Regions from separate parts of the Homo sapiens genome. Here all the other regions are linked to region 1. Evidence: fine-mapped expression QTL. A gene starts in region 1. Each other region holds a variant in brackets. All regions are shown on one strand. Distances are between the middles of the regions.

What was found. PIP is the estimated chance that this variant, and not a neighbour inherited with it, causes the effect.
Region 2: its variant is fine-mapped to the expression of EBPL in monocytes (BLUEPRINT, PIP 0.95).
Region 3: its variant is fine-mapped to the expression of EBPL in fibroblasts (GTEx, PIP above 0.99).

What each region holds. Positions count from the first base shown.
Region 1 is chr13:49,687,663-49,697,811 of GRCh38, reverse strand. EBPL (EBP like) reads left to right here and starts at 6,326. Exons shown (of 4, transcript NM_032565.5): 1 at 6,326-6,558. The coding sequence starts at 6,388. RefSeq lists silencers at 6,201-6,400, 6,431-6,570 and an enhancer at 6,034-7,031.
Region 2 is chr13:49,718,621-49,728,769 of GRCh38, reverse strand. KPNA3 (karyopherin subunit alpha 3) reads left to right here. Exons shown (of 17, transcript NM_002267.4): 7 at 3,269-3,354; 8 at 6,207-6,293; 9 at 6,646-6,815; 10 at 8,951-8,995. Among named protein-coding and RNA genes, the nearest start is that of EBPL, 32 kb to the right of the region's middle. RefSeq lists an enhancer at 3,731-4,231. The variant A/TA (reference allele first, on the strand shown) is at 5,940.
Region 3 is chr13:49,854,122-49,864,270 of GRCh38, reverse strand. No RefSeq gene overlaps it. Among named protein-coding and RNA genes, the nearest start is that of KPNA3, 67 kb to the right of the region's middle. The variant A/G (reference allele first, on the strand shown) is at 5,607.

The DNA of each region.
Region 1 (10,149 bases):
TTGTATAATGCCACTGCAAATTACTTTTAAAAGAAGTTGGTGTATAAGTAAATGTGATAGTACTCATACAATCTTGCCATCATTTCTTTCAGAAGGGTCATCCTGAAGGGCGTGGTTGGTGGCAGACACCTGTAGCTCCAGCTACTTGGGAGGCTGAGTCAGGAGGATCACTTGAGCCCAGGAGTTTGGGAGCAGCCTGGGCAACATAGCAAGACCCCATCTTTAAAAAAATTCTATTTTTATATGAAAAGAAAATTTTTTAAGAAGCGTCATTCATCCTTTTCAGGGGATTAGTTAATGCGGATAAACAAGTAAACAAGAGCACCTGACATTCATGAATGTCCGTTGTCTTACAGTGATGGTTAATTTTTTAAACCCTAGTTAAACTGGGAAAGTTTACTTAACTCTTTTTGGGGGAAAGGAAATATAATTTCTGTATATGAAGCTGTGAGTATAAATGTTGTTTAGATAGCTAAAAAACAGTGATAGAATGATTCTCCAAAAGTGCTATATACAATGTGTGGGAAAAGGGATGTGGGAATGCAACCTAATGCCACTGTTTGCCCATAAAATCCCTCAACTAACTTAGGCCTAAATTGTTTTTTTGTTTTTTGAGATGGAGTTTCGCTCTTTAGCCCAGGTTGGAGTGCAGTGGCATGACCCACTGCAACCTCTGCCTTCCAGTTTCAAGCGATTTTCCTGCCTCAGCCTCCCGAGTAGCTAGGATTACAGGCGCCTGCCACCACACCTAATTTTTGTATTTTTAGTAGAGACAAGTTTCACTATGTTGGCCAGGCTGGTCTCAAACTCTTGACCTCAAGTGATCCGCCTGCCTCGGCCTCCCAAAATGCTAGGATTACAGGCGGGAGCCACAGCGCCTGGCCTAAATTGGGGTTTTTTAAACCCTGCACTATTGACATTTTTGGCTGGATAATTCTTTGTTGTGTGTCATCTGCCCTGTGCAATGTAGGATGTTTAGTAGTATCCCTGGGCTCTACTCACTAGATAGCAGTAGCACCTCTCTCCTCTCCCCAAGTTAAGACAACCAAAAATGTCTCCAGACATTGCCAAACATCTGGGGGCCCAAAACCATCCCTGATTGTAAACCACTGTCCTAAATCAATTCCTATAGAAAACTCCACTCAAATGAGACAGCCTAAATCATGACTTTTTTGTTGTATGAACAGTCCCAGGCTTTCCTCAGATGCATAAGATGAAGAAAGGAGACACAAATGTGCCTTTTCTTCATTCTGAGTTTTAGGAAAAATTGAAGGCAGGCCTAACCTAATTTCCCAAATCATCTGTAGGAAACTCCAGGTAGTACTGAACATCTATTTCAAGGGACTTGGGATAAAGAAATAGAAATATGGAGCAACTAGTTACCTCTTAAATTTATCCTGTGGCTAAAAAACAGGGTTGTAAAACAATCAAATGTGTTAATTGCCCAAATCTCAACACCCTATGGCAGTGTTTTTCAAACACTTGTAGTTGAAAATCTTTAAGTTATCTAGGGAAAACTGGAGTTGTACTAGAAAATCATAGCATAGTTTGAAGATCACTTGAAGCATTGTTGAGAGATTGGCCTCATCAGAAAACTTACAATCATCTATTAAATTATTAAAAACAGAAACTATGGCCGAGCCATGCCATAAAGAAAGTATTCTCTGCAGGGAATTTCTTCTACAGCATCCCCCTTCCCTACCCTAGCAAATTGCCATACACCTTCTTGAGGAATTCCCTTAAACTGTGGTACCCAAAGATGCATGGGGCCTTGTGCCAAATAGTGTGAGAAACCATAAGATAAGGAACACTTTCGTGGGACAGCAACTTTACTAGGTGGTAAGTAAAAGTTTTATTGGTAATACAAGCCAAAGTGTTATAAAGTATACATTTTACATATTTTAAACATAAAATCTGATTTTTGAGGCAGGGTATTTTATGGAAACATTCCTGCAGGAGTAAGTTAGAAGAGCTTGAGAAACAAGGTACTCATTTTGAGGGAGCTTGTATTTATTGGCTAGCTTTGCTTGCTACAAGATCCTTTCTTAACCTGGGTGCAGTGGCCCACACCTGTAATGCCAGCACTTTGGGAGGCCCAGGTCAGTGGATCACTTGAGCCCAGGAGTTTGACACCAGCCTGGGCAATATAGTGAGACCTCATCTCTACAAAAAAAATAAATAAATAAAATAGCTGGGCCTGGCGGTACATGCCTGTAGTCCCAGCTACTTTGGAGGCTGAGGCTGCCATACACTGGACCCGAGATCGTGCCACTGCACTTCAGCCTGGGCCACAGAGTTGAGACCCTGTCTCAAAAGAGAAAGAAACTTAAATTTCCATCATTGTAAATTAACTGTTTTTGATTGGGAGTAGACTTTGTTATTTCCAGATAGCAGAGGAGACTCATCCATTTTTTAAATCAGCTTTCTTTTACTCGAACACCCCTTGCATTTCATCCATTCTCATTATAAAGTCATTGCTGGACCTGGTTCCTGTCAGCGTGATGTACTCCAAGGATTCCAACAATAAGGAGTGTGGTGTGACTGGTTTCTGAGTACTTTGGAATGAATGGGAACATTCCATTATCTGGACTTTTGATTCTATTAATGTGGGGGGAGTCTTTCAGTTATTTTACCAGCTTCATCATAATTAGGTTTGTGATCAAGTCACACCCTCTTTATCATCAGCTCTCTTTAACCCAAATCGTTGGGCATCTACCCTTTTCAACTCTAAACATAAGAATAAATTTCATATTTACTTCAGCCTAGTTTTTCTCATGAGATCACATTCTACATATGTATCCTTTCGATGTCTTCAGTCTTATATAAATAAGAATTCTGACTAAGCCTTTAGAAACATTCGAATACTGAATACTCTGTCCCGTGCCAGGTACTGTGCTATGGCACAGGATACTTGTAAAAATAACAGGAATAAAAAAAAAGACAAGTTTTGACAAATGTTAGAAAAAAAGAGGTATACAATGATACACATACTAGAGGAAATTGGCTACTGAGAAAGGTGATAACCAGGCTAATGTTGAGCCCTTAAAAAGTGCCAGCCAAAATTTCACTGATCGTGGTGAAAAGGCAGGAGTTTATTGGGCACATTGACTGGAAAAGCTTTCCAGCAGTGGGAAGAGTCTGTACAAAGCCTTGTGGGAAGCACCATGGGGTATTTGAGGAAGTGAAAGAAAGCAAGTATAGCTAGATGAAAGATTATAATGGAGAGGAGGATTAATAGGGGAATGGGAAAGGGCTAAAGAGATAGGGAGGGGCCAGACCCCACAGTCTAGTAAGTCATAAAAAGGATTTTGGTATTCTATATGAAGATCATCATTAAGCAAGAGGGATAATAGATTAATAAAGATCACTAGTTGGTAAGGCTAAGGACAGAAAACGTCCTTTGGATTTAGTGATGTAGAGGTCGCTGGTCACATTAGTGAGTGAAGCACAGACGAGATGGTGAACAGGTCCATGAAATGCATGGAATCAAGAAATACTTGGCTGCTGAGGAGGAGTTGGTGATGCCTTAGATGCCAAGTTTGGGGAGAGAGAAGTATCGGGGATGATTTCTAGGTTTCCGGGTTGTAGTAACTGATGAGTGGAAGTAACATGAGATAGGAAGGAGAATCAGACATTGGGGTGGAAAGTGATGAGCTCAGTTTGGGTTATATTGAGACATCCAAGTGACTGTCAAGTAGGGCAGTTGGAAATACTGGTCTGGAGTCCAGAGAATAGGACCAGGCTAGAGATTTGAGTTCTCTGCAGGTTTTGCTGGTCATTAAAGCAGAGGGTAAGGATGAGACTGCCTGGATTTGGGGTCTGGAGTGAGAACAGGGCCGAGGACTGGGTTGTGGAGCTGCAGCATTCACTAGGCATTTGTAGTGGAAGATGCACTTGCAAAGGAAACAGAATGGCTAAGGAGGCTGTATTCTCAGAAAACCAAAGGAAAAATATTTCAGTGCTGGGATGCTGCTGAGAAGTAAACTACACTAAGAAAATGAACTGTTCTTGGGGTTCAGTGATGTGGAGGCCAGTAGTCACCTTAGTGAGAGCTATATCAGTGTGATAAGGCAGAAACCAGAGTAGAAAGGACTGAGGAGCAGGGTCAAGACATGAAGACAGGGGATCTGATCAGTTTTTTCATTAAGTTTCTATTTTGCTCTGAAGGGGAGGTGGGCCGAGTGGTCCCTAAAGGATGATAAGTTAGTTACAGGACAGGATCCAGAGCATAGGTGGCTAGATTGACCATACTCAGTCGCCAGTTATTTAACTGAGCAGCTAATATATGCCAAACTCTGTAATAGGTGCCAGGGATACAGCAATAAAAAAGCTAGCCACAACCCCTGGCCTTGAAGACTTACATTATAGTGGCAGGAGATTAGCAATAAGTGTGTAAACAAGGATCATTCTATCTGGTGTTAACTGCTATAAAAAATGGTATAGGAAGTGACTAAGGGAAAAATTTCTTGTGTTCAGTGCCAGCATTTTTTTTAATAACTGTAAAATACACATAAAATTTGCCATCTTAACCATTTTTAAGTGTGCAGCTCAGTAAAGTATGTTCACGTTGTTGTGCAACCAATCTCCAGAACATCATCTTGCAAATCAAACTATCCGAATAAATAACACTCCACTTTTCCCCGCGCCCCCCCCCCACTCCCGCCCCGCCCCACCCCTGGTAACCATCATTCTATTTTGTTTCTGCAAATTGATTATTTTAGATATTTCCTGTAAGTGGAATCATAAGTATGTTTTTGTGACTGGCTTATTTCACCGACCTCATAGGGTTGTTGTGATGTTAAATAATGTAGGTTTGTTCCCGGACCAAACTGGGGGTTGGGCAGCCCAATAATGAGGTGCAGATGAACTGGGGAAGAAGAGTTTTTATTTCTGCAACCGGTTACAGGGAGAAGGTCTGGAAATTATTGCCAGACCAACTCATAATTACAAAGTTTTTCCAGAGCGTATATACCTTCTAAGCTATATGTCTACGTGTAAGAGTGCATTCATCTAAAGACGTAAGTGATTAACAACTTCTAATCCTGAAGACCTTCCTCTGGAGCCTCAGTAAATTTACTTAATCTAAATAGGTCTGGGTGCTGGGATGATTACCCTTATTTTGTCTCTTGCTAAATCATGGAGGCTTGTGGAATTCCTCCAGACTCCCAATAAACTTGTTTTTGGAGGCCTGGGGAGTTTCTTCAGACCCCCAATAAAACTTGTTTAATCCTAAACGGGTCCTGTTAAAAATTCCTTAGTTATCTTGTCATGCTTCAAGGCCCAAGAAAGGCCTAGGCAAAACTCTTGGTGGGCTTTTGTTACATTCCAGACTTTGGTATATGGGCACTGACTCTTTCAGCTTTTAATTTTTTTTTTGTTTTTTGAGACGGAGTCTCGCTCTGTTGCCCAGGCTGGAGTGCAGTGGCGCGATCTCGGCTCACTGCAAGCTCCGCCTCCCGGGTTCACGCCATTCTCCTGCCTCAGCCTCCGGAGTAGCTGGGACTACAGGCGCCCGTCACCACGCCCGGCTAATTTTTTGTATTTTTAGTAGAGACGTGGTTTCGCCGTGTTAGCCAGGATGGTCTCGATTTCCTGACCTCGTGATCCGCCCGCCTTGGCAAAAAGTGCTGGGATTACAGGCGTGAGCCACCGCGCCCGGCCTCAGCTTTTAATATTTAATTTAACCACTCAGTGCTGAAGCAGTTGTGATGGAGGCCTGCGATAGTGAAACCTGGCCTGCCACAGGTTAAACGCATCTATCGCCAAGCCAATAGGACTTACCGCTCCTCTCACCCACCCTTCTACTTTTCTGGATTTTTAAGAAATGGAAAGATTGTCAGAGTAGGCCATAAAGGCTTTAAGCCGGCTGGTGGCTGAAAACTCCCTTGGCCCCCAGCCTCCCTGGTAAGGCTTGCTGCAGCCTAATTAAAACCTTTTGCCCCTAAAATTCTGCCCCGGTCTACTGGCAAAATTTCCACTACCTAGGCTTCACTTTGTGGCTTAAAGTTTGAGCCTTGTTAAAAGCGAAACAACATCAAAAGGTGTGGCCCTATTACCAATCCTTTGGGCTCGGTTTGGGAACAGGTTTGGTCGAGGCGGTTGCGCAAGTTGGTGAGCACGTTCCTTCTACGGAACCTCCATGGGCGGCACCTGGCAAAACCACCGGACTCAGCAGGCTGGCCAGGGTGCGAGGCGGGCACGGAATCCTCGCTCTGGCCCCGACCCGGCCGGGGAGCCCCGTCCCTCCCCGGACCGCCTTGGCCAATCAGCTCCGCTCCTCCTTGGCCATCCGGCTCCGCCCCTTCCCGGCCAGCCCCGCCCCGTCGTTTCTCTCCCTGCTTTCCTCTGCCGCATGGTCCTGGGCCGTTGGCGTCGGAAGCCTGAAGCATGGGCGCTGAGTGGGAGCTGGGGGCCGAGGCTGGCGGTTCGCTGCTGCTGTGCGCCGCGCTGCTGGCGGCGGGCTGCGCCCTGGGCCTGCGCCTGGGCCGCGGGCAGGGGGCGGCGGACCGCGGGGCGCTCATCTGGCTCTGCTACGACGCGCTGGTGCACTTCGCGCTGGTAAGTGCCATCGCCTAGACCCTGCACTCCCCATCCCAGAGAGTGGGAGCGGGGGCGGCAAGGCGGGGTGAGGGGGTCCTGCGGCTTTTTGCAGCGAGCTGGCCGCCCCTCCCCCTGCTGCAGGAAGTCTGTTAGCTGAGAGGCGCCTGGAGGCCGCGGCGGCCGGAGTTCTGATTCCCAGGTCTGTGAACAGAGCGCAGCTTACCTTGTGCTGCCGATTCCTCCACCAAACTTTAAAAAAATTCTGTACGTGCTATGTTAGTTTAGAAGATACCTCAGCTTCCTCGGCTTTGTAACCTGCACGTAACTGTTGAACTGGACATAATTGAGAGTAGAATTGAGGTCATTTTTAAATGCCCCAGAGGGGGCAAGGAGAGATGCTTGCTCCGGAGGCAGCAAGGCTATTGTCGCAAAACCCGAAGCCTTTGCCAAGACAAACGAAACACCCGTGTCTAATGTGTGCCAGGCGCATTACTGAGTTTAAAATTTCAGATCTTTACAGCATCCATAAATTAGTTATTATTGTTCCCCATTTTACAGAGGTGAAGGTAGGCGCTGCAAAATTAGGTGACTTTCCAGTGCCACACAGCTGGCATGATTCTGAGGCAGTCTAGTCTGGCTCCCAAGTTTGCACTCTGTGTATCAGTCGAGGTCTTAGGAAATATGTGTCCTTAGAGATTCAACCCATTTTATAAAATAGCCAGGAAGGTTGTGTTTAAGGCATTTATATTGAAATGCCCCGCCCCCCACCACACACGCGCACGCACACACACACACACACTTTTAAGTTTTTTTTAAACTATGCCCAAGTATCAGTTTGTTTTTTTTTTTTTTTGTAAAGTTGACCTTGTTTAACTCTAGACACACCTGTGGCTAATGTGAAGCCAAAGTCAGTAGTATTGAGAAAGCAAGCCGAGTTTTGGGTAATCATCGAGTTCTGTAAATGTTTACGGGTTGGCTTTGTGCCCATGACTGATGTTGCTGGAATTCTTTTTATTCTGATAATCAACATGTAGAGATAAGGGACAGTGAATGTTTCTCTCAACTCCTTTATTTATAGAATTCTTTTTTTTTTTTTTTGTCTTTTTTTTTGTTGTTGTTCTTGAGACAGAGTCTAACACTGTTGCCCAGGCTGGAGTGTAGTGGCACTATCTCGGCTCACTGCAACCTCCGCCCCTTGGGTTAAAGCTATTCTCCTGCCTCAGCCTCCCGAGTAGCTGGGATTACGGGCGCCCGTCACCACGCCCAGCTAATTTTTGTGTTTTTAGTAGAGATGAGGTTTCACTATGTTGGCCAGACTGGTCTCAAACCCCTAACATCAGATGATCTGCCCACCTTGGCCTCCCAAAGTGCTGGGATGACAGGCGTGAGCCACCGCCACCGCCACCAGCCGAGAATTGATTTTTAAGCTATCACTTGAACACAAGGTTTCCCACAGAACAAGGGAGATAAAGCAGATTGCTAGGCCCGGTTAGAAAAAATGTATAACAAAATGTATAACATAACAAAAATGTTGCTAGGCCCAGTGAGAGAAAACTGTGTAACATATTGGCTGGGTATAACTGTATATAGCATATCAGAATGTATATATATAAAAATGTATAACATATCGGACACAGTGGCTCATGCCTGTAATCCCAGCATTTTGGGAGGCTGAGGCGGGTGGATCACGAGGTCAGGAGTTCAAGACCAGCCTGGCCAACATGGTGAAACCCCGTCTGTACTAAATATACAAAAATTAGCCAGGTGTGGTGACGGTGCCCATAATCTCAGCTACCCGGGTGGCTGAGGCAGGAGAATTGCTTGAACCTGGAAGGTGGAGGTTGTAGTGAGCCATGATCAAGCCACTGCACTCCAGCCTGGGCAACAGAGCAAGACTCTATCTTGGGAAAAAAAAGAAAAATGTTTAACATACCTTAGACAAACAAAAAGCTGTAAAAATACTTAAACTATATGCGTGTGTTCACCACTTGGTTTAAGACTGTTTACTTTTCAAGCTCAGGTTGTTACAGGTAACACGACACACACCTCCTTTTGTGCCATTACCTACCCCAGCTGCAAAGTAGTCCACTGTGTGAATACACCATACCTTAGTTCTCCAAGTCTAAGACCCACATTTTTTCACATATTAGAAGAATCAACTACATCATGTAACTACTGTAGGCCATTTGATTGATATTTTAATGTCTCTAAATTGGGATGTATCTTATATTTGATGAATACGATCACTTAACCAGCCCATATTAGTGGACACATTTTTCTGTCATTACAAACAATGCATCTACCAACGTCTTTGTACATGTGTCTCAGAGATCAGTGGGGAGAGCACTTGAATTAAGCAGTTGAGGCTGCAAGAAAATACATGCCCATGTTGTCTTTGCTTGGGAGTTTATTGCAAGAATACCCAGAAGTGTGGGACAAGCTAAGACTAAGATGTAGAGCTTAGGGGAGAACCAAAATTAAAACTCACTTGTTCACTAGAAGATGAGTTGCCTCTCCTTAACCCGACACTTCTTTTTTTTTTTTTTTTTTTTTGAGACGGAGTCTCGCTCTATTACCCAGACTGGAGTGCAGTGGCGCAATCTCGGCTCGCTGCAAGCTCCGCCTCTCGGGTTCACGCCATTCTCCTGCCTCAGCCTCCTGAGTAGCTGGGACTACAGGCACCCGCCACCACGCCCGGCTAATTTTTTGTATTTTTTGTAGAGACGGGGTTTCACCATATTAGCCAGGATGGTCTCGATCTCCTGACCTCGTGATCTACCTGCCTCGGCCTTCCAAAGTGCTGGGATTACAGGCGTGAGCCACTGCGCCTGGCCACCCCCTGACACTTCTTAAAGAGAGGAGCTCTGTAGGTTTTTTGGCTGCCATCAAATTGAAAGCTATCCTGTTGGACAGTTTCAAGCCAAGCATTCCCAGGGGCAGTTCATTTCCCAGATGTCCAACCAGAGTGCAGTCACCTTGGGCCCCAGCACTGGTCATCAGTTCAGCTCGTTATGACTACAGCAGAGGGCAGGCTGACTTCCCATCAGCCTACCTGGAAGGAGCCATGGCAACATACTAGAAGAAGGAAATGGTGGGGTCACCATTCTGAGGTCGCTGTGGGCAGCCTAGGCACTGGTGCTTCATGGATAAAATTTTATCTCTTCTGCAATCTATGTATAGCATTCAGGCATGGCCAGAAACATGAGGCAAGATATGAATGCCTGTGTATGGAACACATCCTGTAGTCCAGATTGACAGGAGCACAGGGTTTACATAAGAAGTGGGAGGACCAGCTGGAAAGGTGACAGGTAAGAATTGTATTCTGTAGTGAGAAGCCACTGAAGGATTTCAAGCAGGGAAGTCACGTGGCCAAAGCAGATCTTCATAAAGATAATTTAGTGGTGATGTGTTAAGTCAGAAACTCTAGCGTCCGAGATTTTACCCAACTTAGAAGTTAACAAGGTAGTCCAGTTTGATTCCCCAAGGCCCAAACCCCACAGGACAACATAATGAAGGCCAGATGTTACTGCCTGTACATGCAGTGGGATGCGTTACAAGAAAGGAACTCCAGAACTACGCGTCCATCTTATTGTGAGCTGGTGGTGGCCT
Region 2 (10,149 bases), 31 kb before region 1:
TAAAGCTTTGGCTGACTTTCTCAAAACACTCTCATAATAAGCAGGTGTTATCATTCTTTGGCCCTCTAGAAGGTCAACAAGAATAATACCTTGAGCATCCCCAAAAACTTTTTAGTCATTACCTTTCCTCCTGACCAGTCCACTTTTGCTTCGATTGTACTTTGTCTTTAGGATCATACTGGGAAAGCCATGTTTCATCTCCTTTTACAATTCCTTGAAGAAATACTTCAGGATCTTGATCCCTCTGGTTTAAAATTTTCATTGGAAGCTCTGCTGTTGTCTACGGCTTATCTGGGCACAATGGTTTTGACACCTATCAAGGGGAAAGTTTGCTCAACTTTAATTTTTCAGTCATAATTTTGTAAGCTGAACCAATCAAGATGTCTGGTATTGGTTATTGTTTCTGCTGTTAATCAGCAATCATCTTCTGTTAGGGCACGACCAAGATTAATCTTTTCCTCAGATATTGTTGTTGATTGTTTGCCGCTGTGGATTTCATCTTCAACATCGACTTGTCCTTTTTTTTTTTTTTTTTGAGACAGAGTCTCGCTCTGTCGCCCAGGCTGGAGTGCAGTGGCACGATATCAGCTCACTGCAAGCTCCGCCTCCTGGGTTCACACCATTCTCCTGCCTCAGCCTCCCGAGTAGCTGGGTCTACAGGTGCCTGCCACCACGCCCGGCTGACTTTTTGTATTTTTAATAGAGATGGGGTTTCACCGTGTTAGCCAGGATGGTCTCGATCTCCTTACCTCGTGATCCGCCTGCCTCAGCCTCCTAAAGTGCTGGGATTACAGGCGTGAGCCACCATGCCCGGCCGACTTGTCCCTTCTTAAAAGGAGTTAACCATTTGTAAACCGCTGATTTCTTTGGGGGCATTTTCCCCGTAAAGTTTTAAGTACATCAGTGAGTTCACCATTATTTCACCCAAGCTTCACCATAAATTTGATGTTTGTTTTTGCTTTAATTTTAGCAGGATTCATGTTGCTCTTCTAGGGGCTCTTTTCAGATTGATGACTTACCCCTTACCCCTCTTAGTGCCTCAAACTAGATCATGTTCAGACGTGTATAGAAAGTTAGTATGAGTTTATTTTGGTGCAAAAAAATTGAAATCCATGGAGTTTTTTTCATAATACACATTTTTAATGAGTTTTTTAAAGTCCCCTCATAGTTCTTCTCTGCTACTTCATTTTCTCATATGTTCCATCTTTTTAACCTGTATATCACTATTTGCTATATCTCTGACATCTATTCTCCTTAAAACCTTTTGTTCTTGGATCTCTTCAACCTTTTTTCTCTTTTTTCTTTCTTTTTTTTTTTTTTTTGAGATGGAATCTCTCTCTGTCGCCCAGGCTGGAGTGCAGTGGTGCAATCTCAGCTCACCACAACCTCCGCCTCCTGGGTTCAAGGGATTCTCCTGCCTCAGCCTCCCGAGCAGCTGGGATTATAGGCACGCACCATCATGTCCAGCTAATTTTTGTATTTTTAGTAGAGAGGGGGTTTTGCCATGTTGGCCAGGCTGGTTTCAAACTCCCGACCTCAGGTGATCCATCTGCCTTGGCCTCCCAAAGTGCTGGGGTTACAGGTGTGAACCACCTTGCCCGGACTTCTTTAACCTTTTGATACTAACAACCTTGCTTGCTCTCTTCCCTGTTTATAGGCTTTTCTTCAAACTCCCTAACCTTTGTCTAATCTTAATTTTTGCTGACTAAATCCCCCCAATCCTTGGTATTCCACTTAAGGGAATTTGTACTCTTTCAGCTATCCTAACTTAATATCTATCATTTCCTTTTAACAGGTCTTTCCTTTATGTCTTTTTTGTGACAGGGTTTCACTCTGTCACCCAGGCTGGAGTGCAGTGACACAATCACAGCTCATTGAATCCTCAAACTCCTAGGCTCAAGCAATCCCCCCATCCCACCCCCGCCCAGCATCCCAAGTAGCTGGGACTACAGGTGTGTACCACCACATCTGGCTGATTTTTTTATTTTTTGTAAAAATGGGGTCTCACCGTGTTGCCCAGGCTGGTTTCGAACTTTTTGGCTCAAGCGATCTGCCTGCCTCAGCCTCCCAAAGTGCTGGGACTACAGGTGTAAGCCCCAACATGTCTTTTAATAGGTCTCTCCTATATCAGCCTTTAACCTTTTTTAGCCATTCTGCATACCATTGATTTGAACATTATTTTCTTTCCTCCCTTTTTCAATGCCCCATCCTTAGCATATCTGTAGAATACACTCCTCACTCCCATCCTGAAACACACACACACATGCACAAACACCCTGTTACTTGCTTCTTAGTTAGTTTCAGCTCTCTTGATCTAATCCTTGTCGTTCCTACACATCATGATCCTTCCATGCATGATACCTGTTTTATTTCCCACTGTCACTGCCTTTCTTTTTAAATCCATCTTTGAAAAGCTAGTTCAGTTGTCACTTTCTTTGTGAGGTCTTCCATTACTATTCGAAAATATAATGATCTTGTTTTTTCAACAAAATTATACAGCCTTGTAATATCCCTAGTATGTAAAGCAGATGGTGTAATGGAGACAGATGGGGTTCTAGCTTTAAGACCAGCCTAGAGCGTGTGATAGTGGTTAAAGTGAGATGATGAGGGCCTCAACTAGCACTTGATATTAGGGGTGATTATATAAATGTAAGAAATGTTTAAGAGGTAAAATCGACATGATATATTGATTAGATGTGTCTGTGGAGAGGAAGTCGAAGTCAAGGGAAATAATGACTGGCTAAATGTTGTAATACCAGTGGACATAAAGAAGCAGGTTCATAGTGACTGGCTTTGGGAGCCAAAGAGATTTTTTAAGTAGAGATGGCTGCTGGGTGCAGTGGCTCATGCCTATAATCCCAGCACTTTGGGAAGCCGAGGTGGGCAGATCACCTGAAGTCAGGGGTTCAGGACCAGCCTGGCCAACATAGTGAAACCCTATCTCTACTAAAAGTACAAAAATGAGCCAGGTGTGGTGATGTGCACCTGTAATCCCAGCTACTTGGGAGGTGGAGACGAGAATCACTTGAACCCCAGAGGCAGAGATTGCAATGAGTCAAGATGGCGCCACTGCACTCCCGCCTGGGTGATGGAGGGAGACTCCATCTCAAAAAAAAAAAAAAAGTAGGGTTGGCTAGCAGGCAATTGGATTATAACAAGGTGAAATTCAAGGACAAGGCAAAGAATAGCCATATCTTATCAGTCTTAAGATTCATTAATTTAAGTGGTAGTTATGTGTCTAAAAAGATGTGTTATTGTTTTTTTACAGTCCTTCATTACAGTTTGAAGCTGCTTGGGCATTAACTAACATAGCATCAGGAACTTCTGCACAGACTCAAGCTGTTGTGCAGTCTAGTAAGTAAATTCCTTACTGTCTGAACTTTTTGTGTTTTAATGATGGCAAGGAAGTAGAGTTTTGTAATAAAGAAATTTTATCTTGTAACATTTTTTAAATGATGACTTTTATAAGTTACTTTTGATGACCGATATCTTTTTCATAGCCGTCATTAATTTATCATGAAAAATTTTTAATTGTGGTTATTAAAAGAAGAGTAGAGTTTTATCTTTTGGAGTAGACATCATGCTGTGATAACAGGATTTTAAATTCCGTTTCTGATATCTTCAAGATGCTGAATGGCTTCTGCCTTTTAGCTTATGACATATTTTAAATTTTACTTTCCTCAAGATGGGCTAATAATTATTGTTAAATGACACTGACACAAGCTCTTTAGAAAAGTACTAGATATCACCACGTACGTTATTATAGTATGGGACACTTAGCTAATTTTAGGTGTGGTAATCAAGGTGATTTTAAGTAGCATGTGATATGGCAGTAAGTTACATTGAATCATGTATTGAGAATACTATTCTCACCAGACCCACAGGTGGCTCATGCCTCTAATCCCAGCACTTTGGGAGGCTAAGGCAAGCAGATCACTTGAGTTCAGGAGTTCAAGAACAGCCTAGGTGACATGACAAAATCGTGTCTCTACAAAATATTTAAAAATTAGCATTGCATGGTGGCGCATGCCTATAGTCGCACCTACTCAGGAGACAGAGGCGAGAGGATCGCTTGAGCCAGGGAGGCAGAGGTTGCAGTGAGCCGAGACTGCACACTGCATTCCAGCCCCGGCGACAGAGTGAGACCCTATCTCAAAAACAAAGGCTGGGTGCAGTGGCTCAAGCCTGTAATCCCAGCACTTTGGGAGGCCGAGGCGGGTGGATCACGAGGTCAGGAGATCAAGACCATCCTTGCTAACATGGTGAAACCCTGTCTCTACTAAAAATACAAAAACAAAATTAGCCGGGCATGGTGGCGGGCGCCTGTAGTCCCAGCTGCTTGGGAGGCTGAGGCGGGAGAATGGCGTGAACCCGGGAGGCGGAGCTTGCAGTGAGCCGAGATCGTGCCGCTGCACTCCAGCCTGGGTGACAAAGCGAGACTCCACCTCAAAAAAAAAAAAAAAGTTATCATGTGACCCAGCAGTTCTACTCCTAGGTGAAACCAAGAGATATGAAAACATATTCATACAAACACTTGTACATAAATATTCACAGCAATGTTATTCATAACTAACCCAAATGTTCATTAACCGAGGAGTGGATAAAGTGAATGTGGTGTATACAATGGAATACAATTCAGCAGTAAAAAAGAATGAAGTACCAATACCTGTTACCACATGGATGAACCTGAAGAATGTTAAGTGAAGTCAGACCCCCCAAAAAACACAGTATGATTTCATTTGTATGAAATGTCCAGAATAGGCAAATCTGTAAAGACAGAAAGCAGATATTTAATGGTTGCCTGCCGCTTGGGGAATGTGTGGCAGAGGAACAAATGTGGAATGACTGCCTTAAGTATGAGATTTCTTTTTTCTTTTTTCTTTTCTTTTTTTTTTTTTTTTAAGACGGAGTCTCGCTCTGTCGCCAGGCTGGAGTGCAGTGGCGTGATCTCAGCTCACTGCAACTTCCGTCTCCTGGGTTCAAGCAATTCTCCTGCCTCACCCTCCCAAGTAGCTGGGACTACAGGCACACACCACCATGTCCAGCTAATTTTTGTATTTTTAGTAGAGACGGGGTTTCACTATGTTGGCCAGGATGGTCTCAACCTCTTGACCTCGTGATCTGCCCGCCTCGCTTCCCAAAGTGCTGAGATTATAGGTGTGAGCCACTGTGCCCGGCTGAGTATGATATTTTTTTTTTTTGAGACAGAGTCTTGCTCTGTCACCCAGGCTGGAGTGCAGTGGCACGATCTTGGCTCACTGCAACCTCCGTCTCCCTGGTTCAAGCAGTTCTCTGCCTCAGCCTCCAAAGTAGCTGGGATTACAGGCGCCCACCACCACGCCCGGCTAATTTTTATATTTTTAGTAGAGACAGGGTTTCACCATCTTGGCCAGGCTGGTCTTGAACTCCTGACCTGGTGATCCATCTGCCTCGGCCTCCCAGAGTGTTAGGATTACAGGCATGAGCCATCATACCCAGCCAAGATTTCTTTTGAGGTCCTGGAAATGTTATAAAATTAGATTGTGGCGATGTCCTCACAACTCTGTATAAATATGAAATGTCATTGAATTACACACTTAAATGTAAATTTATTGTAATTATATCTCCGTAAAGTTGTTAAAACTGAATTAATTTAAATTTTAAGTAAATAATACAAGTAATACACAGATACAGCAAAAAAAAAAAAATGAGGTAGTGCACAGTTGATTGAAATTTTTAAAAAGTGATCTAGCTTATGCTGGAAATGGGTATAATGTATACATTCTGTAAAGAGTAAGGATTATGAGAAATTATTTTAAAGTATAAGATAGACCTGATATGAGATTAATCAGTTCTTTGGTTAATCCCCGTATCAGGAATTGAGATTTTGTAGACTAAAGCATTACATTTTAAGGTTACATGTTTGGGGTAGGAACTCTTTTTTTTTTTTTTTTTTTTTT[A/TA]ATGGATTATAGGAAGGATTTCATGCTGTTGCTTTCTTTTAGTTAATGGTATGATAGCAACCTTTAGATACTGCCAGTTGGTTACGGTACTTGACTATTACTAGGGGAAAATACTGAAATTGATTCTTTTTAGGGTAAAGATATTTGCCACATTTGTTCTTCCAGCTACAATATGCCAGGCTGTGTATTTGATCAATTTCTTTGATCTGAAATCTGTAAACTCTTCAACATGTTGCTAGTATAAATATTAGTTTTTCTTTATTACAGATGCAGTACCTCTTTTTCTGAGACTTCTTCGTTCACCACATCAGAATGTTTGTGAACAAGCAGTATGGGCTTTGGGAAACATTATAGGTAAGTGGTTTGAAAGGAATCCTCTTAAGAATCTAAATTAACTTTTTTCCTACATTGGCATAGCCATTACATACTATGTTTCCTCTGAATTTAATGTGTGTTGACTCTCTTCTTGCCTCATAAGTACTGACTTAAGATGATGCTCTTTGAAAAGGATATACAGTTTGCTGTTAGCATTGGTAGGTTAAATTTACGTTCCCCAGATCAAAATCTGGAGAAACAACACTTGATGCCTTTGACTAATGGTGAGGAAACATAGAACGTCAGTGTTCCCACATGAGCCATTGCATACATTTCAGACTTTCTCATCCTGAATGTAAGTTTTTTTTAAATATAATTTTCATTTCTGTAGGTGATGGTCCTCAATGTAGAGATTATGTCATATCACTGGGAGTTGTCAAACCTCTTCTGTCCTTCATCAGTCCCTCCATCCCCATCACCTTCCTTCGGAACGTCACATGGGTCATTGTCAATCTCTGCAGGAATAAGGATCCCCCGCCGCCTATGGAGACAGTTCAGGAGGTAAATGAAGAATTGTAAAGGCCAGATGGTATATTTTCCCTATGTTTGTACTTCAGGAATTCATATACAGGGGACAAAATAATACATATACTGATTTCATTGCAGGTGTGAGTTTTTTGTTTGTTTGTTTGTTTGATAACGGAGTCTTGCTCTGTCGCCCAGGCTGGAGTGCAGTGGCGCGATCTTGGCTCACGGCAAGCTCCACTTCCTGGGTTCACGCCATTCTCCTGCCTCAGCCTCCTGAGTAGCTGGGACTACAGGCACCCGCCACCACGCCTGGCTAATTTTTTTGTATTTTTAGTACAGACGGGGTTTCACCATGTTAGCCAGGATGGTCTCGACCTCCTGACCTCGTGATCTGCCCGCCTCGGCCTCCCAAAGTGCTGGGATGACAGGCCTGAGCCACCACGCCCAGCCACAGGTGTAAGATTTTAAAAGTAACGTACCATATTTAATTACTCCTATGAAATAAAAGTTGAGTGTCTTACTGTACCTGAAAGAATGTCAGTTCATCCTAATGCCTATTTTTTTGATTATCTGCATAAAAAGAAAATATAAAAATTCAGAGAGAAAAATACAAAAGGAAAACAATCTCAAAGTTTTATTACTGTATTGCATTGTTGGTTTAAAGCTATAAAAGGGGGTTGCTACAGGCAAAACTAGTATACTTACATGCAAATGTTCTTGAATGAGTTTGCTTTAAGTCCAATTGATTTTTTTTCTTCTTCTTCTTCTTTTGAGACAGTCTTGTTCTATTGCCCAGGCTGGAGTGCAGTGGCATGATCTCAGCTCACTGCAGCCTCTGCCTCCTGGGTTCAAGCGAGTCTCGTGCCTCAGCCTCCTGAGTAGCTGGGATTACAGGCCAGCGCCACCACACCCGGCTAGTTTTTGTATTTTTAGTAGAGATGGGGTTTCACTGTGTAGGCCAGGCTGGTCTCAAACTCCTGACCTGAAGTGATCTGCTCACCTCAGTATCCCAAAGTGCTGGGATTACAGGTGTGAGCCACTGCCCCCACGGCCTAACTCCAATTTATTACTGACAAAATTGGAGTTCTTAAAAGTGTGACATATTTTTTGTTAAATCTACTAATTAAAACAAAGTAAAAACTTTTTTATTTACATTTGATATGTAAATAGATCCTTGTGCTTTGCATTTTAAAAAAAAATCCTACATAACCTTTATTCACTGTTGACTGTGTTATCTCTTTTTTTTTTTTTTTTTTTTGAGACAGTCTCGCTCTGTTTCCCAGGCTGGAGTGCAGTGGCACAATCTTTGCCCACTGCAGCCTCCACATCCGGGGTTCAAGCGATTCTCATGTCTCAGGCATGTGCCACCATGCCAGGCTAATTTTTGTATTTTTAGTAGAAATGGGTTTTCACCATGTTGGCCAGCTGGTCTTGAACTCCTGGCATCAAGCAGTCCACCCACCTCACCCTCCCAAAGTGGTGGGATTACAAGCATGAGCCACCACACTTGGCCAACTGTGTATCTTTATAATGGACATCTTTCTCTAGTACCTGCTACTTTTTGTTGCTATGCAAAGGTATTTTGTGTGATTTCCTACAACCCCCTGCTCCCTTTCTCCCATATTTTAAAAAGAGATCTCTGGGGCCTGAATTTAACAAGCAAAGCTTTGTACTTTGTACTGGTTCGAATTTTCTTGACTAAAGGTGAAGTTGAAAACTTTAATTTGACTTAAGTAGCTTATTAAGTAAAATCGTATTTTTACGTTAAGCAGGTAAGTGAGACAATTACGGCAGTTTTAAGTGTAGCTTTTCTTAAATAGCTGTAACTGTATATTTGCATCTCCATTTTTTCCACTTGACATTTTATGCCATAAAGAAGGTTATTAAAAACAAATGTTTTTATTTTAAGGTACATTAACTTCTGCCAGATTTATTTGGATATTTTAACTTGTTAATTGAACATATTTCAGTTTAACATTTGAGATATGTTTTTGGTTTTTTTAGATTGAATTTATCAGGTTTTCATTTTCCTAAAAGATATTCAGACAAATTTAACATTGTCTTTCTCGCCCTACAAACCATATTTACCGCTTTTTATGTCAAAGTTGTTCATTTTTACAGACATATTAATTAACTAATGTTAAGTATTGTTTATTTTCTTTCCTCAGATTTTGCCAGCTTTATGTGTCCTCATATACCATACAGATATAAACGTAAGTTAAGAAGCAGCTTAAATGTGGGATTTTGCTCTTGATGGGACAGAAAGGGTTTTTATGTAAGTGTCAGCATACATTTTATCAACTTGTCAAGTTTCTACAACGTATTTACAGTTTTCAGAAATAGGATTAAGCTTAAATTAGGTTTATAGCTTAAATCTGTAAGCAGTAACAGCCAGACAGCAAAAATGCTCACTTTTGAGAAATTACTGCATATGTAGTTTATTTCTGTCATTATTAAGTAGTGTTTTTAAACCTTAATATTTGTAAAGCGGTAAAACCTCATGAAACACCTTACTTTTTAAAAAAAATCTCACTGGTTCTTACAACAGATAGGCTAGATATTATTCCCCCCATTTTATAGAATAAGAAGAAACGGACTCTCAGAGAGAGATTAAATGACTTATCTAAAGTGGAAGAGCTAGTAAGGGTCAGAGTCAATATTCAAATTAAAGTCTTCTCATAACAGGTCTTGGGTACTTGTCACAAAACCATGCTGCCTTTTTATGCTACAGTCTTTTTAGATATAGTATAGAAGAATATATAGTTTTAAATGCAAGGCATTTTTAGGTGATTTTTTTTCATTATATTCAGATTTAGTGAAGCATTTACTGTCAACGTTCTGGCAAGTTTGATACTATCTAGGCAATCTGAAAATTCTCCTAAATGCAGTAAGGTAAATTGTTACTTTTCCATGGAGTAAAACAGTGGATAAATTTCGGTGACTAGTGTTGATCCAGTTTCTTTTATTCTAACTAACATCTCTTTCTGATTTGTTGTATATTTGTGTTTTTGTAATCTTTATCTACATACACATAACATGTACATACATATGTGTATATGTGTGGCAGAATTGTGAATTGTGTGTAATTTATCATTGGGACAAAGAAATACATCTTTGCTTACCTTTCTCACAAGGCAATATAATTTGTATATAAAAATTGTATCACATTACTCTAGCTCATTTGCAGATTTTAAGCTCTCAGGATGGAATCTTTTAAAGGTAGCTAAAGTCACTTCGTGTTTGACACAGCCTAAAATGTCATTAAAATGAAGTAAAACATGTTTATATGCCGTCTTATTTCCAAAATGGATATAAAGTGACTTAACAAAAGACATATAAGATAATATCTGTAAAGGAAAAAGTAAAA
Region 3 (10,149 bases), 170 kb before region 1:
CACCCTGAGTGTATCTTCAGGCTGAATCCAGTCCAGCCTCCATCCTGTTTTCCAGTCACCCCCAACCTACCTGTCTTTGTGTTGCCATGTCTGTCCTCCAATATGATGCAAGCACTGCCTCTCCCACACCTCGCTGTGTTCTCAGAAGCTCCTCTCTGTGATCTTAAACTCTCCCACATCCTCCATCTCTTCTCCTGCCCTACCTGAAACATGGCTGTCCCCAAGGCCACTGTGGCATTATTAGGCAGTGTCCTCATGGCCTGCAGTTGCAGTTTCCAATTCCTATTCCCTCCTCCAAAATCCTCAGCTCTTCTGAAGGTCAGGTCATCTAACTCCCTTGACCTCCTCCTTGAAGCTGTGAGCTACTTCTTGGCGATGCCCCTCCATGCAGGAGAGACTTGCACTTAGCTTCCTGCTTTTCCCCTCCTCCCCAACTCCTGCCATGTCATTTTTACCCATTTTTGTGACCTCAGCATTGATTGGTTGGAACCACCTAACGCCATGTAGTTGAACCATTCAATGCTCTGGCTTCTTAGGTCTTTAACAGATGTGTCCTCAATGATCTTTTTCACCATTCCACCTCAGCTACACACTCACACGGTCACTTCCTTGGGATCAACAGAAATGAACGCATTTGTGAAATCTTTATTTAAGCATCCTACCCTCTGACCACTACCTCTTTCCTTTCAATTCACTTACTCAAGTGCGTCCACTACCATACTTCTTCAACCTTTTCAAAATCTTCAACCCAGTGGCCCACCCCACCATGGCTTGACATTCATCAGCTCCTATATGACTTCATTCTCCTCCTCGTCTTGCCTAGATTTCATGGGCTAAAGTTTAAATTGAAGTAAAACATGCTTGTAGAAAAGTGTAGAAAAGTAACAGCTCAGAAGAATGAGGAGCAATTGCTTGATGGGTATGGGTGGGGTTCCCTTTTGGGGTGAGGAAAATATCTTGGGACTAGACAGAGGTGGTGGTTGCACAACGTTGTGAATACACTAAATCCCACTGAATTGTCCACTTTAAAATGGCTGATAGTCAATTACATGTTATGTGGGTTTTACCTAAATTTTTTTTTAAAAGTTGGCCGGGCGCAGTGGCTCACGCCTGTAATCCCAGCATTTTGAGAGCCCGAGGCTGGTGGATCACAGGGTCAAGAGATTGATACCATCCTGGCCAACATGGTGAAACCCCGTCTCTACTAAAAATACAAAAAAATTAGCTGGGTGTGGTGGCGTACGCCTGTAATCCCAGCTACTCAGGAGGCTGAGGCAGGAGAATCACTTGAACCCAGGAGGCAGAGGTTGCAGTGAGCCCACATCAAGCCACTGCACTCCAGCCTGGCGATAGAGCGAGACTCAGTCTCAAAAAAAAAAAAAGTAAACAGTTTGATTAATTACCACACAGTGAATACACATATTTAATCACCACATAGTTTAGAAAATAGAACCTTACCAGCACCCCAGAAAACTTCTTGAGGCTACTTCCACTTGCACCCTTCTATATTGCCCAAAGGCAACCACTATTTTGTGTCTGGATTCTTTTGTCCAATGTTTATGAAATTCATCCATGCTATACATAAATCGTAGTTCATTCATTTTCAGTGTTGTAAATATTCTTTTCTTTTTTTAGATTAAGGCAGTTACTTCATTTTGAACAAGGAAGTAGCATAAGCAACTCAGTGTGTGCCCCTTAAGATGGGAGCTCTTCCCCCATATCACTCCCCACTCCAAGGAATAATTTTGGGAGAAAAAAATGTCTTCTATCTGGCTACCTGTGATACCTATGATTGCACCTTCTTATATGGCGGGCACGTCATCACGTCCAGACGAGCATCTAAGGAACTGCATTTTGGGAGTTGAAACTTTCATTTGGGTCTGAGATGAATGCATGAACTAACACAGGGCCATGGACCCACTAGTCTTGATCAAGTTAGAGAAAATGAAGGTGACTATTTACACTTCCAAGTTGCTTTCTAGATCCTTTCATTAAAAAATGTTCTGATCAGGCCGGGCGCTGTGGCTCATGCCTATAATCCCAGCACTTCAGAAGGCCGAGGCAGGTGGATCATGAGGCCGGGAGATCAAGACCATCCTGGCTAACACAGTGAAACCCCGTCTCTACTAAAAATACAAAAAGAAAAAAATTAGCTGGGCATGGTGGCAAGCACCTGTAGTCCCAGCTACTCGGGAGGCTGAGGCAGGAGAATGGCGTGAACCCAGGAGGCAGAGCTTGCAGTGAGCAAGATAACAGGATTAAGAGATTAAAGTTTAAAGAGATTAAAGACAGACATAAGAAATTATAATAGTATTATTTGGGAACTGATAAATGTCCATATTAAGAAGAAATCTCCACAATTTATGTTCCTCTGCCGTAGCTCCAGTCAGTCTCTCCATTCAGGGTCCCTGACTTCCCGCAACACCAAGTAAGCTTTTCTTTTCTTTTCTTTTCTTTTCTTTCTTTCTCTTTTTTATCCCCTCTCTCTCTCTTTCTCTTTCAGATGGGGTCTTGCTTTGTTGCCCAGGTTGGGGTACAGTGGCACAATCACAGCTCACTGCAGCCTCAACCTCCCTGGCTCAAGCAATCCTCCCTCCTCAGCCTCCCAAGTAGCTGAGACTATGGGCACACACCACCATGCCCAGCTAATTTTTGTATTTTTTGTAGAGACAGGGTCTCATCATGTTGCCCAGGCTGGTCTTGAACTTCTGGGCTCAAGCAATCCTTCCTCGGCCTCCCAGAGTGCTGGGATTACAGGTGTGAGCCACTGTGCCTGGCCTAAACTTCTTTTCTTTATGAGTGACCCAATCTGTGGTCCTTTGTTATAGCAGCAGAAAAAAAAAAAATGACAGGTACTATGGGGGAAAATGGACAAGGAAGATCCTCTCATATGGGCGAGAGGGTGGTTATTTTGGCTGACCAAGGAACTCAGCATACTTCTGGAAAATGAGAAAAGGTGATATGGTTCATGCTGTTGACTCACACCAGTATTTGTTGCTTCCCCGCTCCCATTTTCACAACTTTATTGAAGTATAATTTTGAATAATAAACTGCATATATTTGAAGTTCACTATTTGATAAGTTTTGGTAAACATATGTAACTATGAAACCATCTCCACAAACAAGATGCTGAACATTTCCATTGCCATTGAAGGTTTTCTCATACCTGTCTGCAGTTCATTGCACTTTTTAACCTGTCCCCAGGCAACCACTGATCTGCAGTCTAGCTACATAAGTTAGTTTTTATTTTCAAGAATTTCATATAAGTGAAATAATACAATATATATCTTTGTTTGGTTTCTTTCAGTCAACAGATTACTTTGAGATTTAATGAAAATCAGTTTTGATTTTGCTCAAGTGATCCTCCCACCTCAGCCTTCCAAATAGCTACGACTATAGGCACGCACAACCCTGCCTGGCTAATTTTTAAAATTTTTTCTAGAGGTGGGGTCTTGCTCTGTTGCGTAGGATGGTCTCGAAATCCTGAGCTCAAGTGATCCTCCTGCCTTGGCCTTCCAAAGTGCTGGGATTATAGGCGTAAGCCACCACACCTAGCTGACTTTCATTTTCTTAACTGACTTTCAAAGAGAAATGTTTTAAATGTTGATGAAGCCCAACTGATTACCTATTTCTTTTTCTTTTTTTTCTTTTTTTTTTTTTTAGATGGAATTTTCTTCTGTGGCCCAGGCTGGAGTTCAGTGGTGTGATCTCGGCTCACTGCAACCTCCACCTCCCAGCTTCAGGCAATTCTCCTGCCTCAGCCTCCTGAGTAGCTGGAATTACAGGCATGTGCCACCATGCCCGGCTAATTTTTTTTTAGTAGAGATGGGGTTTCACCATGTTGGCCAGGCTGGTCTCGAATTCCTGACCTCAGGTGGTCAGCCCACCTTGGCCTCCCAAAGTGCTGGGATTACACATGTTAGCCACCATGCCAAGCCCCATCTATTTCTTTTATATCTTCTTTTGTGTTCTACTTAAGAAAACTTTGCTTATGCCAGGGTCCCACAGATTTTGTCCTATATTTTTTCTAGTAGATTTATAATTCTAGGTTTACATTTAGATCTATGATCCATTTTAGATTTTTTTTTTTTTTTTTTTTTTTTGAGATGGTGTCTCCCTCTGTAGCCCAGGCTGGAGTGCAGTGGTGCAATCTTGGCTCACTGCAACCTCCGCCTCCCGGGTCCCAGTTCAAGCAATTATCCTGCCTCAGCCTCCCAAGTGGCTGGGATTACATGCACATGCCACCATCCCCAGCTAATTTTTGTATTTTTAGAGAGACAGGGTTTCACCATGTTGGCCAGGCTGGTCTTAAACTCCTGACCTTGTGATCTGCCCACCTGTGCCTCCCAAAGTGCTCGGATTAGAGGCATGGGCCACCGCGCCCCGACATTTTAGATTAATTTTTTCGTAGGGTCTGAGGTCAAACTCCTGGCTTCAAGCAATCAATCCTCTTGCTTCAGCCTCCTGACTCACTGGGATGGCATGGGCCACTGTGCCTGGCTCCCAGCCTCCTCTTTAATCAAGGAGCTTTGGCTCTGTGAATTGACTTAGATCTCAACACAAGAGGCCATGACTGTCCACTGCAGTGACTCATCAGGTTTTTAGCTACCAGACCTAGAATTTTTCCCTCTGTTACAGATCAAGCAATACAATGGTAGATTGCCCATCTATTTCATTCCTAAGAACACCATAACTTAACCACCATCAAATATGTCTGCAGGCCAAAGCATTCTGATTGCCCTTTACAGTGGATGCATTTACTTTGTCCTTGGAGATTCAGTGCCACCCCTACCTATGCCACTCTGAGATCCCATCATCCCATCATTGAAATTGGGGAGACCATGTCAATGGCATATTTTCCACCTACCCTATAGAAGAGAGCAACCACAGAGCTCTCCTTTGAAAGAGGTTGCAGGTGCTCCATTTATTAATGCATTTCTCAATGCTTTAGTGAGGGAGATGTCTTCTGGGTTTTCTCATGGGACATTGTTTGGAGGTAGGACTGAACAATGACATGATGAGAACAGTAAGGTAATGTTTTATACCATATTCTGGGCTCTGTTCATGATTACTTTTTTCTGATAATAAGGACTGTTTCAATATTTTAGACATTTTAGAACATGACAGAAGATTACAGAAAGATATTAGGGTATTTTATGATTTGAAGTCTCACAAGGGACAGAAACCAGGGAAGTCTCCAGGTTCCTCAGCTGCATTTATTTGTGTATCTTCTTTTGAGGATTCTGCCATTATTATGACAGATTTTCCGTTCTTAGTTTTGGGTCTCTCCCTTCCAATTCTGGCAGGAGAAAAGCCCAATTTCTTTTTCTCTTATTTTATCAACATTCTTGGAGCCTTTACTGATAAAGGCAAAATTCAGTACAAAGCATACTTTTAACTGGCCTATTTAACAAGTATTTTAAAGAGCAAAAATCTTTCCTATCAACTTCCACAAAGGTGTCCAAAGTCATCCTTTTAAATTGGAAAGAGTTCTTAGGGAATTACGCAATGGTATGTACAAACCTGAACAGGCTGTACTCATGAGGACAAATATGTGATTTATCTAAGCATAGTAAATACTTCAGAGTTTAGTTTTCAGGGTTGGA[A/G]TGTCTACTGTAAACAGTAGCAATGACTATCTCTATAGCAAAATTTCCAAGCATAAGAAGAAATCAAGTTTTTCAAGAGAACATTTGCTCAGTAATACCTTTGCTCTTTTATTTATAGGGTAAAAGAGGGAAGAAATATGAGAAACATGCTTATAATACTTTTTTCTTCCCATATCCTTTTCCTTACCATAAAAAAAAGTTCTGTGGACTGGAATTAAAGATCAATGATGTATCACTGAAGCCATGAAGTCCTGCAAGTTTACATCATGATGATTCAGTGCTCCTGGATTAGCAAACCTTCCTCTCTGTGCATAAGCATCCCTCAACAATCCCAGGCCCCCGTGTCAGTACTGCTTCTGAACAACTCGCTAGTAAGCCCTTGAAAGAATGCAAACCTCTTTAATGTAGTCAAATGAAACAGATTTGTGCTCTGTCAACTCAGTCTTGACTTTTGCCTCCAGATTGTGGATTACTTGAGATGCCTGAAATATATTGTTTTTAAAACTGAAAGGTAGCTCCATCATTTCAAAAGCAGATAGTAGAGATGTTTACCAAGAAAAACATAGCCAAGGCCGGGCGCGGTGGCTCACGCCTGTAATCCCAGCACTTTGGGGGGCCGAGGTGGGCAGATCACGAGGTCAGGAGATCGAGACCATCCTGGATAACACGGTGAAATCCCATTTCTACTAAAAATACAAAAAACTAGCCGGGCGTGTTGGCGGACGCCTGTAGTCCCAGCTACTCGGGAGGCTGAGGCAGGAGAATGGCGTGAACCCAGGAGGCGGAGCTTGCAGTGAGCCAAGATCGCGCCACTGCACTCCAGCCTGGGTGACAGAGCGAAACTCCGTCTCAAAAAAAAAAAAAAAAAAAAGAAGAAGAAAAACATAGCCAAAACATTACATTCCAGCCCATGGGCAGTGAAGATTAGATTTTCCTGTTATCTTCCACCTGTTTTTGTTGTTGCTGTGGCTTTTTGGCTTGTTTGTTTTCATCCCTGCTGTAATCCCTGATTAACTCTTATTTTTTCAGGTTGTTGTTTCATGTATTTTGGCCACCACTTCCTGCCAAAACTATCTAATATCTGTACATCTCTAGAGGGTTCTAGCAACTATGCTGTCCTTTTTTATAGGAACTGATTCTTTTTTCTTTTTCCCACCCATTGAGCTGATTCTACTTGAACTCAATGAACTTTTGGTCTCTGTGCTTCTTTATTTTAATTAATTGAGCTTTCTATCTAAATTGGCACACTAAATCCTGAACAATCCAGAGCTGCATGTTTGGTCTAGATTGGTTAGCCACACTGCAGGTCATAGAGTTAGCGTGGAAAAAATATTCCAATTTCCAGACCCTTGTGAAAATCAGAATTAGCCAGAAGCACCAGTTTGTAGAATCATGGACAAATCTGGGAAAGCCCAACAATTTGGGGGATGTTTAGCCCCAGATGCACAGGATTGGATTAGAATTAGTTCTAATCTACCAGATGCGTTGGCACACACCTGTAATCCCAGCACTTTGAGAGGCCAAGGCGGGTGGATCACCTGAGGTCAGGAGTTCAAGACCAGCCTGGCCAACATAGTGAAACCCCATCTCTACTAAAAATACAAAAATTAGCTGGGTGTGGTGGCAGGCACCAGTAATCATAGCTACTTGGGAGGCTGAGGCAGGAGAATCACTTGAACCCAGGAGGCGGAGGTTACAGTGAGCCAAGATCGCGGCATTGCACTCCAGCCTGGGCAACAAGAGTGAAACTCTGTCTCAAGACAAAAAAAAAAAAGAATTAGTTCTAATCCTATTTATGGCATACTTTCCTCTGTGGTCCTTAAGTGGCCTCCTCCATTAAATATTGTTATGTTAATATACATATAAACATAGCTGTAGACATAGATAAATACTCATGAACCCACCATCTCAAGCAAAAACTAAGACCTTGACAACAACCTACATCTAACCATATGGTTGCTTTTCCCATCGTGTCCCTCTGCCTTTGTCTACTCAAGGTAGCCATATTGCTGAATTCCATGTTAACAATTTCCTTGCCTTTAAGTCACCATAGTGTTTGCAAAAAAATAAAAAAACAATTTCCTTGCCTTCCATTTCATATAGTTGAATTGCACGTATTTGCATTCATAAAAAGGAACTATTATCTTGGTCATAAATTTTATTAAAAATGCATTGCAGAATATGTAAACTCTTTAGATTCATTTATTATTATTATATTGTTAAGATTCCTCATATTTTTGTGTGTTGTTATGTGGGAGTTCAATCAGGCTGGTGGGAAAAATATTAAAGATAGTTATAAAAATAAACACAAACTTTCTTGGAAGGCCTGAAGGTTTTTACAGAAGTCTCAGGATAAGACAATGGCTGAAGGCAACCTAATCCTTACCTTGAGTAAAAAGCTTCAAGTGGGTAAGGAAGAAGGCAGAGTAGTGTATCTAGCTAGGTTGTTTAAGACTAACCTTTGATCTACCACCGGTGCTTAATTACTTTCTACAGGAAGTCCACAATGTCAATTACCCTCTGGTGGTGTTGACTCAAGCCTTTGTCAATTCATCTTTACTAAATAAATGCGAGTCTCACTAGTTGGTCAGGGCCATGGTCGTGACTGTTTACAGCACTCTGCTTGGAGTCTGTAAGTGGCCCAGACACTCAGCTGGACTGGCATAGCAGAATATCTGTGTGTCAGTGTACTTCATTCATCCATCGTTTGGGTCAGGGTCTGCAGATAGACCCCCTCATTGCTATAGTTCATTCATGTTGACTGCTGAATAACATTCCATTGCGTGGATTTACTACAATTTATTTATTCTGTCTTTTATAGTTAGGCTTTTAGGTTCTTTGCAGGTTTTTGCTGTTGTGAACTGAAATCCTGTGAACTTCCTTATGCAGTCACTTGTACACATGAAATGGTTTATGTTGGGTCTATACCTAGGAGTAGAATTGTTGGGTCATTGAGTATGTGTATTAGTTTCATAGAGCTGCTCTAACAAATTACCATAAACTGGGTGCCTCAAAAAAACAGAAATGTGTTATCTCACAGTAAGTGTCCTCAGGGCTGGTTCCCTATGGGAGCCTCTGAGGGAAAATCTGTCCCATGTCTCTCTCGGCTTCTGATGGTTGCCAGCATCCCTGGACACCCCGTGGCTTGTAGATGCATCACTCCAATTTCTATCTCTGTCTTTACATGGTCTTCTCCTCTGTGTGTTTCTGTCTCTGTCTCTCCTCTTCTTCTTTTTTTTTTTTTTGAGATGAAGTCTCACTCTTGTCCCCCAGGCTGGAGTGCAATGGTGCAATCTCAGCTCACTGCAACCTCCGCCTCCCAGTTTCAAGCAATTCTCCTGCCTCAGCCTCCCAAGTAGCTGGGATTACAGGCGTCCGCCACCACACCTGGCAAATTTTTGTATTTTTAGTAGAGATGGGGTTTCACCATGTTGGCCAGGCTGGTCTTGAACTCCTAACCTCAGGTGATCCACCCACCTCAGCCTCCCGAAGTGCTAAGATTACAGGCATGAGACCCGTGCCTGGCCTCTTCTTTTCTTATAAGGATGCCAGTCCTATTGAATTTAGGGCCCAGTATGACATCATTATAACCTAGCTACTCACATCTGCAAAGTTCAAATAAGATCACATTGAAGGTTCCAGGAGTTAGAATTTTAACATTTTATTCTAGGGGACAAAATTCAACCCATAATAGTATATGAATGCCCAAATTTAGGAGAAAATGTCAAACTTTTCCAAAGTAGTTATACAATTTTACATTCTCACCAGCATTGATAAGATTTGGTGTTATCAGACCATTCAAATTTTTACCAGATGAATGAGTATAAAATTGTGTGCCATTGTAGCCTCAATTTTTTTTTTTTTTTTTTTTGAGACGGAATCTCGCTCTGTTGCCCAGGCTGGAGTGCAGTGGCGCCACCTCAGCTCACTGCAAGCTCCGCCTCCCGGGTTCACACCATTCTCCTGCCTCAGCCTCCTGAGTAGCTGGGACTACAGGTGCGTGCCACCACACCCAGCTAATTTTTTTGTATTTTTAGTAGAATCGGGGTTTCACCATGTTAGCCAGGATGGTCTCAATCTCCTGACCTCGTGATCCGCCCACCTAGGCCTCCCAAAGTGCTGGGATTATAGGTGTGAGCCACCACACCCGGACTGTAGTCTCAATTTATACTTCCCAATTACTAATTATGTTAAACATCTCTTCATATGTTTATTGATCATGTGTTTTCTCTTCTGTGAAAACAGTTCTTTTTTTGGCCCATTTTCCTATTGGGCTGCTTATGTGTTTTTTCTTTTACTGATTTGCAGAAGTTCTTTATGATACCAGTCCTTTGCCAGTTTTATGTGTTTTGAATATCTTCTATATATAACTTTTTACTTTCTCTAACAAAGCAACATTTATCAATCTTTTTCTTTTATCACCAACTGGAGTGCAGTGGCATGATCATGGCTCACTGCAACTTCCCCAGGCTCAGATGATCCTCTCATGTTAGCCTTCCAAGTAGCTGGGACTACAGGCATGCACCACTACACCTGGCTAAGT